Linked DNA regions of Homo sapiens: all the other regions are linked to region 3. The links come from fine-mapping of genetic effects on gene expression. A gene starts in region 3. Each other region holds a variant in brackets. All regions are shown on one strand. Distances are from middle to middle. Region 1 overlaps UBASH3B (ubiquitin associated and SH3 domain containing B). Region 2 overlaps UBASH3B (ubiquitin associated and SH3 domain containing B). Region 3 holds the start of UBASH3B (ubiquitin associated and SH3 domain containing B).

What was found.
Region 1: its variant is fine-mapped to the expression of UBASH3B in whole blood (TOPMed, PIP above 0.99).
Region 2: its variant is fine-mapped to the expression of UBASH3B in whole blood (INTERVAL, PIP above 0.99).

What each region holds. Positions count from the first base shown.
Region 1 is chr11:122,807,013-122,814,116 of GRCh38, reverse strand. It overlaps UBASH3B (ubiquitin associated and SH3 domain containing B), which reads right to left. Exons shown (of 14, transcript NM_032873.5): 13 at 5,941-6,050; 14 at 1-4,368. The coding sequence ends at 4,231. Among named protein-coding and RNA genes, the nearest start is that of CRTAM, 28 kb to the left of the region's middle. RefSeq lists enhancers at 309-916, 917-1,525. The variant T/C (reference allele first, on the strand shown) is at 3,291.
Region 2 is chr11:122,707,924-122,715,027 of GRCh38, reverse strand. All of the region lies in intron 1 of UBASH3B (ubiquitin associated and SH3 domain containing B), which reads right to left. Among named protein-coding and RNA genes, the nearest start is that of UBASH3B, 56 kb to the right of the region's middle. The variant AAT/T (reference allele first, on the strand shown) is at 2,992.
Region 3 is chr11:122,653,102-122,658,101 of GRCh38, reverse strand. It overlaps UBASH3B (ubiquitin associated and SH3 domain containing B), which reads right to left and starts at 2,380. Exons shown (of 14, transcript NM_032873.5): 1 at 1,892-2,380. The coding sequence starts at 2,052. RefSeq lists a silencer at 1,721-1,770 and an enhancer at 1,974-2,475.

The DNA of each region.
Region 1 (7,104 bases), 150 kb before region 3:
AAAGAAAGAAGCAGTACATATTTTCCATTATACACATCTATCCTGTACAGAGTCCATGATAGTTGAACAGCTGGAAAATTCCAATTTGTTGTGTAATGGCAGCTAAGTGTAAAGTATTTGCAAGAACTGATTGTATATTAAGTTCGACTAGTCATCACTATAATTTTAAACCTACATACACCAATCCTACTATTATTTGTACTTAAAAATGAAGTTATTTCATCTGCATTTACAATCTTTTTCCCTTTTCGCTTGAATTTTCATTATAGCTAGTCACTTTCCTAGGGAAATTCAATATGTTGAAGTATTAAAGAGAAGCAAATCCAATTTTAATTCTATGTTTAAAAATGAAAAGCTTCTGCTATCACCTAACAAAATATCCCCCATCACCTTTGTAAAGTGAACATTAACCTAAATAGATGTTAAATCGCTCTTTACCCCACCCTCCTCTGCCTGTCTCATCTCTCCCCGCAATGCAGCCTTTTAGACTAGTGCCTCTTCTTTCTCACACGTGTGCTGGATTGCAATTTAAATGCAAATAACCCTGCACCTCATTATCTAAGTTCGTGCAGACTCAGTAACAGTTGCCTGTGCTGAAGGCTGTGAAATCAAACGGAGGTTCATCTGTATTCTAACACATGGATTACTTAGAGTAATTTCAAAAGAGCAATTCATCACTGCTTTGAAATTAAACACTGGACTTGCAGAGTGCCTAGGTTACGGAGGAATGCCTTTCTTTTACCACATAGGGAAGCCTTTCCACAAAGGCAATGAGATAGGAACTTCTTTTACTGTAGCTGTTCAATTAGTTCCCAACAACACTAGGTAATTGAAATAAGAGACTTCATTTTAATACGAATACAGCTAGTTGAGTGGAAAAGACACACTTATGGTAATGTTAAGCACAATGACAAGACAATCTATATGCATTCCAAATACCACTAACAAGGAAATTATCAACAATGATTTACCAAACAGACATCACTCCAGAAGGCATATTTTTTATTTTTTATTTTTTGCAAAATCATCTTTTAAATATAAGGTTACTTTAAAATAATTCTTTGGTTAAAGTATAATTAAAATAAAAAGTAGAAACTCCTCCAAGCCTTTCACTACAGAGTGAAAAATACGCCCCTCTTTCAGCCATCAGATGGCCATTTAATCAGCCATTCAGATTCTATGAATCTAAATGTAATGGAAAACACTGTAATCTGAACTCCATACTGGGGTGAAGCAATAAGCTCCTAGCTACCAATGCAGTGATGGTGAAGAGAGCCTGGGAAAATGAAACCCCCAGCTTATGCATTAAAATGTGCCAATTACTCTGGTCCATGGAGGAACAGACGCGGTATTTTAAAATCACAGGAAACAAAGTTCTGTCTGTGAATAACACTGGGGCATTACCGGATTGATGTGGCACACTTGTAGAAGCAGGAAATGCTTTCAGGCTTTCAATCCCAGATTAAAACCTTTAGTTAATTTCATTTCACCTAGTTTATTTCAAATAACTTTCTACATTAAAACAAAATTCCTCTGTACAAGAAACCATTTGCTTCTTATCTGTCAATTCCTTCCTTGCCCTTCCTTCTCCTCTCCCCATACATCATTTGTTTTAATAAGCATCAGCTTCAGATCAAAAAGAACCAGCTGCAACTTCAGGTTATATATATTAGCCTATACTTTTTGGATGTATATGAAATTGAGTAATATAGTTGTCTCTTTCTTTTATTATACATAGATGCCACATGATTTACAAATAATTTCTCAGTTGCAGTGCAAGTTTAGTTTTTTAAATAGGTAAGTGTGCAAGGGGAACTTAATGTGAATTCAGATCTTTTGGGCCATTTTGACAAGCAATTTGAAATAATGAAATTGAAATGAAAGCAGAGAAATACAATCTTTCTTGTTTTCCACCTGAATTATTCGGAAAATTATTTCAGATCTCTATCTCCTTTTGCTTATATAGACCATTGCCTAAGGCAGTGTCCATATTGGACTAAGAACAATGGATTGTAGCCCAGTCAGACAGATTTATCAGTTCGTCATACAACTAAGATAACCTAGAAGATGGAGTGGATAACCTATTCCAGACTCTATTTCATACATTACAGATACTGCCCAGAACACACTGCTACAGTTTCAAGGTGAGGTGTTCAAGCATTATTCTGAGCACTCAACGCCCATGAAAATTTGTGGTGAATCTGTTAAAGATTATGGATCTGATTAAACAGTGGATTCACTTCATTACAAATACCAGAAGAATGAATGGTAGAGCCATTACATTACTTGTAATGTGACTTTTCTCTTAAGACCTTTATTGGGAATATTCCCTCCCAACATTTTATATTAACACATCATCACAGGGTTATTTCCATACCCAGAAGCTGGGTCAGTGTTTGCGCAACGCTAGAAGAAACCATGATTGATTTGTTTCTCAAAATGTAAAATACATGACATATTTTTCTAAGTGACCTAAAAAAAATACAACTATGGGCCAGGTGTGGTGGCTCACACCTGTAATCCTAGCACTTTGGGAGACAGGGGCAGGAGGATCGCTTGAGCCCAGGAGTTCAAGACCAGTCTAAGCATTATAGTGAGACCCTGTCTCTAAAAACAAAACAAAACAACTATAATCCTTTTGCTCATTAACATATATAGCCAGCATCCTTTCATGTCCTCTTCTTTCTAGGGGTTATCAAGTTGTAGTTTCAAACGCAAGCATAGATGTATTTTTATATACCTTACGTTTTATGCATCTGAGTTTTGAAACATAGTCAATGTTACTGCAACATGTAAAGATCCATTTTACACTAACTAATGTCTCTTTAAAGGGCTGGCATTTCACTTTGCATACATCTTCTACAGAGTGAACTATACCATAGGAGACCATCATCTGTGGCCATCAACAGTCAGATAGTCACACAATTAAACAGACATTGATAACTGATGATTTGGTTTGATTGTCATTTATTTCTTTTAAATAAACTCCCTCTAAATGCAGGAAGTAAGTATAATGAGAAACCACAGAATGTGGCTCTCCAAATTTCCTCAGTAGCCCTACCTATGTATTTTAAATTATCATAGAAAAACAAACAAAACGACAGCACAAGTAGCAGTGCAGCCATGACTGTCATCATTTATATTAGTTCCCTGACTTACTATACATCCCTGGTATAATTGATGCATTTGTGGATGTTCCATTATGGTTGACACGTACTGTAAGTGTACAACAACCTGACCCTTGGTATGGTTTGCAAACATGTCCATATTGCACAGAATGAACTTCTTGC[T/C]GCAAATAATATATCTAACATACATCCTTTCAAAATGTAACATCCTTAACTAGTTAACATAGTCTAGAGTCTAGGGGCAAAGACAAGCAAATATTGATGATTTAGAAATGCAGTAGCACGTTAGGCTACAACATGGTTAATTCCAAGTCACTTCATATTTTGCAAGTTCTTTGCTCCTATGATTGAATACTTCAAACATGTATCTTATCTTTCCTCCTGAGTATCCAAAAGTGCTTTGGAGAGCAAAAGTGCTTTGTCTCCCCATTTCACAGAAGCAAGGAGGGGGGATAGGGCTGTAGCAAGAAGGGCCAGCTGCTCTAGAGAAAATGTGGCAGTACCAGGGTAAATGTTAGCATCCTTAAGCGGGTATCTTCAGCCAGCAACACTGGTGTATGGGGGCTAGTGACGGTAGGATTTCATGTGTAACCTAAGAACAACTCTCTTCAGGGCATGTTTTCTAATAATCTTAAAAGGATTCCTCAGCTTGGCTCTACCTAACTGGAAAATGGAGATAAAAAAAAAAAAATTCCATCCCCAAGCTGTCCTTTCAATGCTCCCCCAGCTGGTCTGGGCACACTCCTTCCTCTTGCACCCCTTAGAGCGGGCCAGCAGCTCCCTCTGGGAGAAATGAGGCCCCTTAGCTGTGCATACCCAGAGGGAACGAAACATTCTCTTCTGTAGCAGGTGCCCCGATTTAGGAAGACAATTCTCCAAAGCCTTGTGAGCTAGGCAAGAGTCCAGAGAGAACACATTTTTTTCCTCTGAATCAAGTCTTTCTCTCATTTACACAGTCTCATCTTAAGAACTTTAAGTGTGAAAGGAAATATGCTAAATTATTCTGAGCTGTCCACTTAGAGTGTGGTGTGGATTTTCCCACTGTTTTTAAACACACAGAAAGACACACTCCAAAAGGCCTTTCCTTCTTGTTCACTGGTGTGGTTTATTCTTGAAGCAAGGTCTCTCTCCAGTTGAAGCCCCCAGTTGGTCCATGGGTAAGAGGAAGGATTGGTGGATCTGTCAGCTGCCATATTCCAGTTTCTCCTAATTCTTCACAGGAACAAAATCCCAGATATGGGATCTGAAGTAAGAGTCGTAAAGAAAGGGGATATTAGGAGATAGGTTTAATGCTTTAACTTTTACCTAAATACAAAGATATTCATGTGGCCCTAGAGAATTGCAGTCAGAAATGGATAGTGGCTTTGTAGAAATGCATTCCCTTCAAAAATCGATAAATAAAATAAAATGGGTAAAACTGGTAACTTAGAAGAGTATTTACATTGCAAGAGGATTCATCAGAAGGATCCATTAAATGGTGACCTCCCCTAAAGTAATTAAGTCATTGTTCATAGATTGCTGCTTAATTGGGTGGCAGAAAAAGAGGACCAAAATACATAAGGCTACAATGCCAGGAGTTAATTCCCAATTGCAAGTCCAGGTAAAAAGGCAGCTCAAGGCCGGGCACAGTGGCTCACGCCTGTAATCCCAGTACTTTGGGAGGCCGAGGCGGGCGGGTCACTTGAGGTCAAGAGTTCGAGACCAGCCTGGCCAACATGGCAAACCTCATCTATACTAAAAATACAAAAAATTAGCTGGGCGTGGTGGCATGTGCCTGTAATCCCAGCTACGTGGGAGGCTGAATCAGGAGAATCGCTTGAATCCAGGAGGCAGAGGTTAAAGTGAACCGAGATTACGCCACTGTGCTCTAGCCTGGGTGACAGAGCAAGGCTCTGTCTCAAAAAAAAAAGAAAAAAGAAAAGAAAAAGTCAGCTCAAACATTTCTGAAATTATACTTGGACCCAATGGAAAATATTTTTCAATTTGAAAAAATTTGTTTCACCCGTTTTTTTTTTCTCCTTACGAGTCTCTGCAACATTCAAAGCTGAAGCTGTGCTCTCCCTCACTTCAGTTGTCACAGCAATTTTAAAACTTATTTTTGTCTGTGTCCAGAGCTGCATTTACAAACAAGACAAAATTCTCTGTCTTCCAGCACTTACAAATGAGGACAGATGCATAAATAAACTTTTCAAAAATGTGAAAAAAGATTGCAATTGAGTTTGAACCAGGTTCTCTGGCGGCAGAGAAAGGAAGTATGTAATTTGCCTGAAGGGAAGTGTGTGGGAGGCAGCTGACCAGAAAACCTCTCCCACAGGCACAGAAAGGAAGACTCCAGATGTGTGGGTCAGCCTCATGGGTTTTCTGTCTTGCTGTCTTGTTCCTGGCTTTGCCTTTTAGCCTCCTCATTTGAAACTGCTGCATGCCTCGGCCTACCTTCAAGGACCTGTGTTTGAGTTAAGCTTTCAGATGCTGTCTTTTGGACTGACCTCTATTGATCCAACCCAAGTTCCCTCAGGGAAATTCAGAGAAGGTCCCTCAGGGAAATCCAGACAATTTGCTTATAATTCCTAGCTGCTTCCTACATTTTAGCTCTTAGAAGCTAGAACTAGCTCTCATACATTGTTTTTCTAACACAAGGCTTAATAAAGTGCCCTGCACAGAGTATCACTCAATACATCTTGGTTGAGTGAAGCAATAAATGAATATTCCCAGCTCAGCATAAACACATGCTTCAAAGAACTTGGTAATCAGCCAGTCACTGTACTGACTTCAAACTACTAGCCATCACGGACCCCAAAGTACGAGAATGAATTACCTTTCGGACCATTTGTACGAAGTCCTTGGAGTTCTGAGGTGACAGGCCCTGAAGTTGGCAGGTACACGCTTCAAGGGAAGATGCGTGGGCCACAATCAGGATGTTATTTCCTGGGGGAAAATGGCAAGGTATGGGAAGACTGTTTCTATAAAGACATGGAAACTTTGCAAATACTGGAAGCTAACTAAATGCTCTGCAGGGGAGCAAACACACTCAAGAAGACAATTTGCCTAAGCAATATTTTGAAAGTGCTTTGTTACTGATAAGGCAGCTTAATCTTTTTAAAGAAAACATTTATCTTAAAATAGTTACAGATTTATGGGGCCGGGTGTGGTGGCTCATCCCTGTAATCCCAGTAATTTTGAGAGAACGAGGAGGGAGGACCACTTGAGTTCAGGAGTTTGAGACCAGCCTGAGCAACATAGTGAGACCCTGTCCCTATAGAAAATTTTTAAAAAATTAGCTGGGTGTGGTGGCCTGTGCCTGCAGTCCCAGCTACTTGGGAGGCTGATGTGGGAGGATCACTTGAGCCCAGGAGATTGAGGCTATAGTGAGCCATGATTGCATCACTGCGCTCCAGCCTGAGTGTCAGGAGCAAGACCCTGTCTCAAAAATAATAATAATAATTATGGATTTATGGGAGGGTTACATACATATACATACATACCGACAAGATCCCATGAACCCTTCATCCCATCCCCCTCCAATGGTAACATCTTACATAACTATGGTACAGTATCAAACCCAGGAAATGGACGCTGGTACAATACACACAGCGTATTCAGATTTTAGCAGGTGTGCAAGAAGTCGTTTGTGCATATGTGACGATACAGTTCATGCAATTCTATCATATGTGTAGCTTTTTGTAACACCATGACAATCAAGATACAGGACTGTTGTGTGTCCATAGGGCTGTCTGTGCAACTCCTTCTAACATAGTTTTAAGTGTTCCCACTATAGAACTATGAGCACTTGAGACTTCCTGGTTGATAGAACATGTTGTGTACCTTTATGGTAGTGAGTGGCTAATCAATGAAAACTGGAAGGTGGGAATCATTCATAATACTGTTGCTCATGGCTGCCTACTGTTTGAATATAAGTATTTTAACTTAAAAAAAGAGATGAAGGGAATGTCCATACTTTTTTTGCAATATGCCTTTTTCA
Region 2 (7,104 bases), 56 kb before region 3:
CTTGCAGTGAGCCGAGATCACGCCACTGCACTCCAGCCCGGGCGACAGAGCGAGACTCCATCTCAAAAAACAACAAGAACAACAACAAAAAATTTATTTCATTTAGTCTTCAGAACAACTCTATGACATGGGTACTAAAATTGCACTCACTTTACAGATGAGAGAAGGAGAAGGTAAATACTTTGTACAAGGTTATGCAGATAATGAGTGCATCCCGGGCTCAGACACAGGCTTGCCAGACACCTCTGTTCTTCAACACCATCCTACCCTGCCTTCCCATCATCAGCTGACATTGCTTCACTCTGTGCGAAGATGGAAAGAGGAAGCACATTTCAGGCTTAATTCTCACCATCAGTATCTTCAGTTTTACTGATGAGGAAACTGAGGGTCACAAGTTGTGAAGCAATCTGTCCAAAGTCACACGACCGTGAAGCAGCAGAACCAGGAGTCAGAGCCAGGACTGAGTTCAATCCTTCACTCTCTCCATTTTACCCCGCTGCCTCTGGGCCAAATACCTGGAAAAAGAGGTCTGCCTCTCACTTGCTTCAGGTTTTAAAGTAAAAGCAGAAGAGGAAGTTCAGAAGGTGTTCTTCTTCAGTGTCCCCTAAATATGAGATTTTGAGAAAGGCTTGACCCTAAGGGCCAATAGGTAGCAATTTCAGGAAGGCCGATTTAGAGAGAATTGAATGGCCTTGTAAGGTAGTGAGCTCCCCAAGAATGGAGGAGTTCAAGCGCAGTCTTGATGACTGTGGCAACACTGTAGACAGCAATTGTTGTTTTGGCTGTCCAGTATCTAAGCACTCTTCTTATTTAGGGGAATCCCAATATGAGCGAAGGGGGAGCCCCACTAAAGAAACTGATGGGGCAGATGTTCTGTCTTTCAGCTTCCTGACAGATGATGCCCAGCATATGACTTAGACGAAGGCAATCAACTACTCCCATTAAAGACTTTGGAACCTAAGGTGACCAAGAGTGGAGGGGTCACGGCAAGTGTCTGCAGCAGTGTCCTTGACTCCTGCCTGTTTCCAGAGTCTGATTATCCATGCCCCTGATAGTTCTGTGAGCCACCTAAACTCGTTTCCTGCTTAAGTTATCCAGAGGTGGTTTCTAACCTGGATATAAACATCTGATGGAAGGCTGCACTGGATGAGGTCACAAAGCCAGCTGCATATCTGAGTTACTGGTGGAGTTCAGTAAAAATACAGATTCCCATGTTCCCCAAGACCTACTGGATCAGAATTTTCAGGAATAACCCTGAACATTCATTTTTTTTTTTTTTTTTGAGATGGAGTCTCGCTTTGTCGCCCAGGCTGGAGATGACTGACATGTGGCCAGATTTGGGAGTGGCTGAGATAAATAAACTTTAGGGCCCCCAAAATAAAATACTATGATTTTCAAAAAAACTCTTACCAAGAATTTGGCCATGGCTCTCAGAAAAATGCAACATGCCTATAGTTTCTTTATAATTGCTAACATAAAGCTTATCTTTTTGGACAAATCACACACACTCCTAAGAGGCTAAAGCTGTAATATATCTTCTATTTCCATAGGATATTCCTTCCAAGGCCTTTTGCATCTACAGATCTATTATCACAGTTGATGTAACTTCCCACCTTCCTCAGGTGGGTGAGATCCATGATTTCACATGCATTCGTCTGATGCCGCAGAGTCAGCTGACCACATGGCTTTTTACTTCCCAAACCAAAGCCTCTCTTCGTCGTGTGGCTATTCTTGGGATCTACAGTGCACCTCCTGTGTGCCCTAAAGAGAGCTTCATCCCATGTGAGCCTCAACTCCTCTGTGTGAAAATGAGGAACACTGGGCCGGGTGCAGTGGCTCACGCCTGTAATCCCAGTACTTTGGGAGGCCGAAGTGGGCGGATCACAAGGTCAGGAGATCAAGACCATCCTGGCTAACATGGTGAAACCCCGTCTCTACTAAAAATACAAAAAATTAGCTGGGCGTGGTGGCGGGTGCCTGTAGTCCCAGCTACTCGGGAGGCTGAGGCAGGAGAATGGCGTGAACCCAGGAGGCGGAGCTTGCAGTGAGCCGAGATCGCACCACTGCACTCCAGCCTGGGCGACAGAGCGAGATCCATCTCAAAAAAAAAAAAAAAAAAAAAAAAAAAAAACCACCCAGAGAAGAAAGATGAATGTCCAGTCAGCTTCCTGGGGCTCAGCTCAGAGATGTACATCCCTGTACCACTATTCCTCATTCATCCAGGAGCAAAATCCCCTCTTCTCCTGCAAATGTAACTGCTGTTAAGAAGCTGCACTTGGTAGTGGAGTTCTATATACTTCAGGGCGTTTGCTTTTGTTTGTGCAACACCACAGGTAGGAAGGTACCTGTGAAACCCATGGAGTTCTCCTCTTGCCTCCCAGCTAGTCAGGGCTGTTGGGTACTTTCTGGGGTAGAAATTCCCTAGCTTCCCTTGGTGACCCTCCTGGTGCTCAACAGGATGCAGAATGTGAGGGAAAAAGAGCGAGCACCAACAGGACCCTGGTTTATGCCTATTACTCAGGGCCAGGATGGAAGCAAGCATGAGAGCCCCTGGGTCCATTTGGGCTGCTGAGAAAGCCCCTCTCGTGTGACGTGCGTCCCCCACCAAGGAAGCATCCAAGTCCACCCTGGGTGTGTATCTACCCAAGCAGCTCCTTAGGAAAGTCAGCAGACCTCCCACCTCCTCATGCTGGAGCTTCATGTCAGCTACCGCCCTCCAGAGGACTTTGAGGACAATATGGCCATCTGGTTTCTGTACAATCTGCATCCGTATAGTGCTCATAAACTTATCTTCCAGCTCGTTCAAAATGTACACAGCTGAATTCTACTGCTGACTTTGGCACTTGCTCCTGGTATCTGAGAAGAACAGATTCAATTAAAAAGGAAATAACAGATGCTGCAAATCACTCCCTCATTTTCAGAGAAGTTTTTTCCCCCTAGTGCCCTGAATTACTTGATGATGAACAGCAATGCAGTAAAAAAAAAAAAAAA[AAT/T]GCAGCTGGCATGACAACTTCCAACTTGGCTTCAAACCAAGGGGAAGCTGCGGGCTGTCCTTTCTAGATGGTCTTTATGCCCGGCACATTCCTTTCTTTGGTATGGGTATTATTGTGTAGAGAACTTGGCTGGAAGTAAAGGGATAGAAAAAAATGAACCCTGGGGTTCTTTTAGCCTTAAGATTCTTTGCTATTACTCACTCTTCCTCACAGTATCTTTGTGAGGGGTGTATGTAGTCAGTGGGACATTGAAGGCAGGATTAGTATTCCCATTTTAGAGATGGAAATGCAAAGGCCCAAGGACAGCAGGTTATTTGCAAACTCCAGTAAAGGAAATTGGTTCTATCAGAAAACCTTGATTCTTTTTCCACATGCACCTGTGCCCGTTACACAGCATGAGGTAGTAATGAGGCCAAGGCCAGGCTGAAGTGCCCGGGGGCATGCTCAGGAGACTTAGAGGCATACACGCACTCCCGGCACATGTCCTTGCAAGGCACTTAAAGGCTGCCAGTGCCCGGCCTTCCTCGGCTCCGTTCAGGCCTGCTTATCACATCCTGCCCTGTGCTCAGCTTCACTCTGCCTGAGTCTTGTGAGCCTCCCTTGGACTCAGGGGTGACCATCTTGTTATTGATGACTTGTGATGGGACCCACGTGGCTGGAGAGTGACGAAAGAAAAATGGAAGGAAAGAGATGCATTTGGAATAGGGTCTGATTACCTCTCCTCTCTTTCCCTAAGCACTAAAATGATTACGAATTCCAAGGTTTGGACAGGAGATGGGGGACCCCCAAAAATGTCTGCTACAGAGATTTTGGGAGCCTGGGACTGCAAGATTAGGAGCTCCCTTGCCAGAGTGTATAAAGAGGAAGGGTGGGGGCTCTCTTCTGGAGAATTAACTGAGGAGATTCTGCCTGGACACTGAAGCACAGAGTCAGGAGAGCCCAGGCTTCCTTCCATGAATCTCGTTTCCAACAGTCATCAGAGAACAGGGCTCCCACACTTCCTAACCCATTGACTTTGCTGGGACCTTATTTTCTGAAACAAGAGTCAAGACCAATGTTTCCTCTATGGCCTGTCAATGAAAAGGGATGATTTGAAAATTATGATTATCCCTGAAAATCCAGGGTATATGCCTTTATGTTCCCATGGCTGCTCTACCATCTCCACCCCCACCACCCTGCCCCCAGGACAAAGCCTACCCACCTGGGGTTCCTCTCCTTATGGAATGAGAGTCAAAAGCTCTAGGGAAGTGGTATGCGGCATGGGCTTTCTGTGTTCCCATTGCCTACCAATTCTACATGCCCCGTCCCCCTCCCCAATTCTCCCCAGCAGGCCCTTATGGGGCAGCTTCCACCCCCTATACCACTTCTACTTTGGTGCCTTTATTTGTCCATTTTTGGCTATATCGGCATTAGCTATGATTTAGCAAGATCACACGCTTCTGGAGGCAGAGATTGAGGATACCACGACCAGATGGATGGATGAACGTTTGACTTCTGGCTCTGCCACTTTTCAGGTGGGGGAGATCATGTCTGGTCCTTAATGTCCCTGAGCCTTCTTTTCAAGAAATGGGATGAGACTGGACCTGCCTTGCAGGGTGGTTGTGATGACACAGAGATAATGTGTGCAGAAGGCAGCACAATGCCTGGCTTGTAATAAGCGTGCACAACAATGGTGGCCCCACCATCTCTCCAACCACCAGCCCGCTCCGGGACTTGCTCTTTCGCCTCCTCCTAAATGCCTTTCCTAAACTGCATTTACCTCTGTCTTCTAACTGTTGGCCTTATCTTTCTTCTGCTCTGAGAACCTAGAAGCTAGACCATGTTGTTTATTATGATTATCTTAAATCCATGATTCAGAATGCTTTTTTTTTTTTTTTTTTTGAGACAGTCTCACTCTGTCGCCCAGGCTGGAGTGCAGTGGTATGACCTCGGCTCACTGCAGCCTCTGCCTCCTGGGTTCAAGCAATTCTCCTGCCTCAGCCTCCCAAGTAGCTAGGATTATAGGTGCCCGCCACCATGCCTGGCTAATTTTTGTAATTTTAGTGGAGACGGGCTTTCACCATGTTGGCCAGGCGGTCTCGAACTCCTGGCCTCAAGTGATCTGCCTGCCTCAGCCTCCCAAAGTGCTGGGATTACAGGCGCGACCCACAGCCCCTGGCCTCGAGAATGCTCTTTTGATCTAGGCAAATGAATGAACTAACAAATGAACAAACACATAAACCAAAAACAGGTTAGAGCTCTAGTTTTTGAGACCGTGTGATAATCTCTTCCAGAACTCTAGGAGAAAAGGCTAGGTGGGGACTCAAATTCCTCCCTTGCAAAAGCCTTAGATTAGATAATTCCACCCAGGATGTCAGGAATGCTTGATGACTTGGAGCATTTCTGCTGATTGTAGGCCTATACCCAGAAAGAGTTAACCAGCAGCTGCTGGGTTTATTTTCATTCTCTTTAATAAGGGAATCAAAGCAGCAGGACACAAACACACTGAATCTCTAATCACTCCAACACCCACACATGTTCCCCATCCCCTTCTGATTTAGTAAAGTCAAAGCTCGCTTACCACGCAATACATTTGACTGGCTTCTACAGCGGCTCACTTGTAAGTGATGAAATCTCAGCTTTTCCCCCAAACCTTTATTCCTGAAAGTCCATCATTACCAAATTCTTCCCCTGGAATAGATATTGGTATTGCCCTCTTGCTGCAGCCTCTTTTACAACGTAGACATGAAGGTGGGGCTGGGGATGGGAAAGTGAAGACTTCTAAGTCTCCAATAACATAGTTTGTTTTGAGACAGGGTCTCGCCTTGCTCTGTCACCCAGGATGGAGTGCAGTCGTGTGATCATGGCTCACTGCAGCCTTGCCAGGCTCAAGTGATTCACCCATTTCAGCCTCCTGAGGAGCTGGGACCACAGGCATGTGCCACCACACCCAGCTAATTTTTGTAGTTTTTGTAGAGACAGTGTTTCACCATGTTGCCCAGGCTGGTCTCGAACTCCTGGGCTCAAGCCATCTGCCAGCCTCAGCCTCCCAAAGTGCTAGGGTTACAGGCATGCACCACCGTACCTGACCATGAATGAGTTTATCATGTTTAAGTTGGCTGGGTTCTGCATTAAGGGAAGGTGATGGGAAATGACCATGTACTGAACACTGGCTAGATACATTATATACATGTTCTCATTTCTCAGTAACTGTGACAGAAGGATTATTATATGCTTTCGGCTGGTGAGAAAAATTGAAACCTAAAATGGGAACTTGCCCCATATTACATGGCTCCTGGAAGACAGAGCCAAGACTCATGCCAACATCATACTTAGAGATGCCTGACTCCAAAACCTGCGTGGATCTTTTTGAGGGATGCAAGTGAATGGTGCTGTCTATTTGGCAATAAAACTTTTTGGAAGAATGAATGAATAAATAGGTTACCAAAAGCCAAACAAGAAGGCCGGGCACAGTGACTCACACCTGTAATCCCAGCACTTTGGGAGGCCAAGGTGGGCGGATCACTTGAGGTCAGGAGTTCAAGACCAGCCTGGCCAACATGGTGAAACCCTGTCTCTACTAATAATACAAAAAAATTAGCTGGGTGTGGTGGTACATGCCTGTAATCCCAGCTACTCGGGAGGCTGAGGCAGGAGAATTGCTTGAACCTGGGAGGCGGAGGTTGCAGTGAGCCGAGATTGTGCCACTGCACTCCAGCCTGGGTGACAAGAGTGAAACTCCATCTCAAAAAAAAAAAAAAAAAGCCAAGCAAAGTTCAAAATGACTTAACAAAACTCCTTGGAGAATAGTCAGCATCTCACCTCTAAGGAGCAACCTCTCCTAGCCTCTCTTCTCTAGCATGTTGAAGATGGTGGTGAGAACCTGCTCTTAATTCCTTTCCTTTGGACACTGAGTCTCCAAAGAGTAAGTGGCTTGGAACTAAAGCCCAGTTTTCAGATTTCTGGCTCAGTGTGTTTCCTAGTATTATGATGTCAGGAGAAGAGATAGCCAAAGAAGAACTCTATCGTAGTATTCAGGCATCATAAATTATATATTAGAGGCCAGGTGCAGTGGGTTCATGCCTGTAATCCCGGCACTTTGGGAGGCCAAGGCAGATGGATCGCCTGAGGT
Region 3 (5,000 bases):
TGGGCTCAAGCGATTCTCTTATCTCAGCCTCCCAAGTAGCTGGGATTACAGGCATGCACCACCCCACCCAGCTAATTTTTGTATTTTTAGTAAAGACAGGGTTTCACCATGTTGGCCAGGCTGGTCTCAAACTTCTGATCTCAAGTGATCCGGCTGCCTCAGCCTCCCAAACTGCTGGGGTTACACCCAGCCCCACCTCCAGTTTTTAAGGAGAGCTGTGCACATTGATCATCCACACCGACGACTTCACCTGAAGCGTCCACACCTGACACACCCCTGCAGAACCCACATTTTCTCCCTGTAATTCTGGTATCAGGAACTGGAGCCCTAGTATTAGGAAGTCGTATTGGGACGTCAGTGGAAGGCAGAAACCATCAGTCCATTTTGCAGCCTTCTAAGGCCACTCCAACGTGTCCCAGCAGCCTGGAGAATAACAAATTCAAGGGTCTACTTTGATTAACAGATTACAACCAAGTTAGTAGAGAATAAACAAGGTTTGCCCAGAGATAAGGGAGGGGAGACATAAAGTTATTGCCTGTAATCCCAGCACTTTGGGAGACCGAGGTGGGTGGATCACCTGAGGTCAGGAGTTCGAGACCAGCCTGGCCAACATGGCAGAACCCCATCTCTTCTAAAAATATAAAAATTAGCCCGGTGTGGTGGCGCATGTCTATGGTCCCAGCTACTCAGGAGGCTAAGGTGGGAGAATCGCTTGAACCTGGGAGGCGGAAGTTACAGAGATTGCGCCACTGCACTCTAGCCTGGCGACACAGCGAGACTCCGTCTCAGAAAAATAAATACATAAATAAAGTTATCACCTGAAAAAAAAATGTGAGAAGGGAAAAAAATAAAAAGGACTTTCATTTACTTGGCCCTCACTGATTAAGTTTGGCCAACTCTCCTGTTCAGGTGCTGTAATTCAAAGATGAAAAGAAGCTGCGCCCAGTCCGGACGCCAGGCCTTGTGTCCCCACCTAAGAAATCTGCACGGCAGGGATTAACCAGGGGAGAAGGGCCTGGCCGCTGGGCCTTGGCTTCCTCTTAGGCAGAGTTCCAGCCCCTGAGACTTGAGCCGACCGGCCTGAGACGACTCCGGCCGCCGCCACCCTATGCTGGCAAACAGGCCTCTCCCCAGCAGGCTCCAGGGGCAGCCACCTGCGCTCTCCCTGCCCTCCCCTACCCCACTCTCCTAGAGGAAGGATGAAGAACAGCTCCCCCTCCTTACTCTCAGGCACCCACAGATTTCTGAGCTGCCGTCACCACTGACGAGAACCCAGGTCCCCTGGAGGGATCGCTTCTCCTTCTGATTCCATCCTCCCCATCAATGAACACGCAGGAACACCCACGCTCCCGCTCCTCCTACTCCAGGGGGAGACCGAACCCGAGAGCGACATCCGGAGCTGGAAGCCGCTGCAACGGGGGCGCCGGCCTCCCTGCCCCGCAGTCTCCCGCCCTTTCCCAGACACCGGAGGATCCCAGACCAGCCCAGTATTCCAGACGGAGAGGGTGCCCGAGTCCTCCGCAGGGCCCCGCCTCCCTAGGCGCTCGGCGCTGGAGACCTAGGGGAGCGCGCGAGAGAAACGCTGAGCTCCACCCGGCTGGGGCGGAGGCTGAGCACTATACCCGGGACTCGAACCCCGCGCCCTCGTCCCCCAGCTTTAGGCATCCCACGGCGAGCCCTGGCCCAACGCCCCCGCGCCGCGTCTTCCCCCGCACCCCCGCCCGGAGCCGAGTCCCGGGTTGCCAGCGCGCCCATCCCGCCCCCAACAGGTCTCGGGCAGCGGGGAGCGCGCTGCCTGTCCCGCAGGCGCTGGGAGGCGAGCCGGAGCGAAGCCGAGGGCCGGCCGCGCGCGCGGGAGGGGTCGCCGAGGGCTGCGAGCCCGGCCACTTACGCGCGGGCTCTGGGGAACCCCATGGAGAGGAGCACGTCCAGCGCCGATCCATGCTTGATGGTGCCGGGGCGCTGTTGGCGGTTCCTCCGGGGGGTGACTTTGCTGTACAGCTCCTCTCTCGCAGCCATGCCGAGCGGACTGGGGTGGCCGTACTGAGCCATGGCTCAGCGGCCAGCCATCGCCAGGGAAGGAGCCCGAGCCGGATGGTTCGGGAAGGAGGAGGGAGTCGGGCTGGGCCAGGGGAGGGGGCTCGGGGACCCAGAGCCAGGCAGGAGGCGGCGGCAGCGGAGGCGGCGCTCCGAGCTTCCCCAGTGTCGGGACTCTGACGCTTCCTGGTGAGGCCACAGGAGCCAGAACGCCGGCAAGCGGCCGCTGCGGGACCAGCCTCAGCCACTCGGGCCCCCGGCTGCCCCCAGCTCTGCGCCTGCAGTAGCCCTGTCTCCTCCGCCCCCTTCCCTCTCCTCGCCTAGCAGTCCGGGAATTTGCAATGAGTAATTTTTGAATGGATCAAAAAGGAAAAGGAGCCTTGTGGGCTGGCCCTGACTTGCCTGTACCCGGGCCCCGCCCCTCTCTTAAAGCGGCCGCGCTGTCCGAGGCTGCTCCGTGCGGGCAAGAGCTGTAGTCGCGCTACTTGGAGACGGAGGATCCCAACCTTATGGGCTGCTTGTGTGCTTCACCTCCCGAGAGTCACCCCCGGCGCCCCAGCCCTCTCCTTGGCTGGCATACCCGCCCAGCTGGGCCTCAAGACAGGAGATCAACCCATCTCAAGTTTCATGTGATTCTAGATGCGGTTATTAATGGAAATTGGGTGAACTGGTGGATGATACTAATGGACCAGAAGGCCAAGCCGTAAGGCCTAGGTAAAAGGTTTTGCTTCTCAAAGATCCTGCAAAACCCAAAGGGTTGTTAGGACCATCGGAAGTTGAGTTCCCAATCAGCCGGCCAAGTGGCTGCACTAAAGACCTACTGCGCTCTACAAGGTTATGGTCAGTGACTGAATAGTGCCTTCCCGGTGGGGCAGAGGGGTTGGGGAGAAGGACCTCAGGTTCTCAGAGGTGGCAGGACCTGGGAGGGGACAAGAAAAGAGGGACAGGGCAGAAAGAAGAGGGAAGGGAAAAAGAAAGGAGGAAGGAGGAGGAGAAGAAGGAAGGGCTAGGAGGGTAGAGGAAGAAGGAACAGAGAAAACATACTTCCTAATTATAAGAGGTGTTCAAAAGGGAACGGGCTTATTTCATTAGGGAGTGGATATCCTGTCAATAAAAGGATTCAAAGACGGACCGAATCACCACTGCACAATAATAAGTGAATTGTATCATAGGCTGGACAAAACTACTCCCACTGCAAAGATGGTGGAAGCCACAACCATATTGATGCCCCATGCCCCACCTGGTGAATTTGGCTGGGGGATGCTAACCCTCTTTCGTTTGGAAACAAAGTCATTGTCTTCAGTCAGGGACAAGGGTCCCACTTGCTATAATGAAAGAGGCAATGAGTACACCCTAACTGATAGTCTTTTTTGGGTAATAATAATAATAAAACCTAACATTTATTGGGCTCTTGTATGTGCCAGTCATTGTGCTAATCGTAATGAATGAACTCACTGAAGTTTTATACTGACCCTAGGAGTGTGTTTAATCATTATCCCAGTTTTACAGATGAGAAAACTCAGCTCAGAGAGGTTGGGGAAGATCATAGAGCTGGTAAGTGCGTAGCTACAGCACTCGTATCCACTGCGGTGCCTTAGACAAGTTACTTCTCTCTACAGCCTAATTTCCTCATTGGTATGGACCGTGGTAACCTAACCTTGCACACACTGGGTTTTCCAGAAATGTCAGTCCGGGCCTGTCCCTGGTTGGAATATGGGGGAGGGATGGTGACCAGCACCCATGGAGTGGCTTTTTGAGGTTGCTTTATAAGGCCTGTGAAGGTTTTACCAGGGGAAATGATACAGTGTAACTCCCTGAGCCCGGAATTGGTTTCCTAAAGAATAGCCAGTGGTGTTTGGAAGCAGGGAGATAAGACAGCTGGAGCTTAAGCAACAATGTGTATTAATTCTGCCTCCTGCTGTACAAAGGATGAGGGAAAATTAATGCTTCCTGGGTAGTAGCTGCTTCCAGAGCAAAGGGGATATCCTGGAGACCTTGCAGAATGCTCTTCCAGGACATGGAGCAAAAAGACAAGACTGGGCTGGCAACACCATACCTAGTATTAGCCTCCTTGGATGTGTTCGGTAAAACATGCTGGATTTTATCCAGTATTCTGAATTGTTTCCAAATGCCTGGGCTGAAAGTCAAATGATCTGGATCTTAGTCAAGAGATAATAATGTATGTGAAAGCGCTTTGTAAACCATAAAGCGCTACATAAATGATAACTCAAATTTATTGAGTACTTACTATATGCTGGTGTTGTTCTTTGCTTCTTACATATGTGACTCAAACAATTCCTTGACAAGACTATGAACTAGGAACTACTTTACAAATGAAGGTGCTGAGCCAGAGGTCAAGTATCTTGTCCAAGGTCACATGGCTAGTAAATGGCAGAGCCAAGATTTGAACTCTTAACATTTGGCCAAACAACTAGTTAACGACCATTGTTATGATGATAAAAGGACACCAGCCTTTAAGATAGTTTTTTGACTCCATCTATGCCCCTTGACATAGAATTGCTGGATCTCTGTTTCTCCAGAAAAATTGAATTAATTGTCTTTCTCCCTGCCTTTAGGCAAACTGTAAGATAAAGGAAATGATGCATATAAAAATAGTTTTAGGTAGACTGGAAAAAGCACTATGAAAAACTAGGCACCTGAGATGCAAACTGTTTTTGTCTGGGACACTTTTACAGAAATCCCAGCTTGGCTTCCTCACTTGTCTTCAGCTCAGTGCAAACCCCTGTTTTATTTAGGACTCCTGCCATTTGTTCTGCACTGGGTTGGGGGGCTGGCAATTCAGATGCATTGTGCTTTAATTGTGTTGACGTTGAAAAGCTAGGAAAAGCTTCATAAATGTCTACACTGTTCTATTACAAAGAGAGAAGAGGGGGGCTGGGTGCGGTGGCTCACCCCTGTAATCCCAGCACTTTGGGAGGCTGAGGTGGGCGAATCACAAGGTC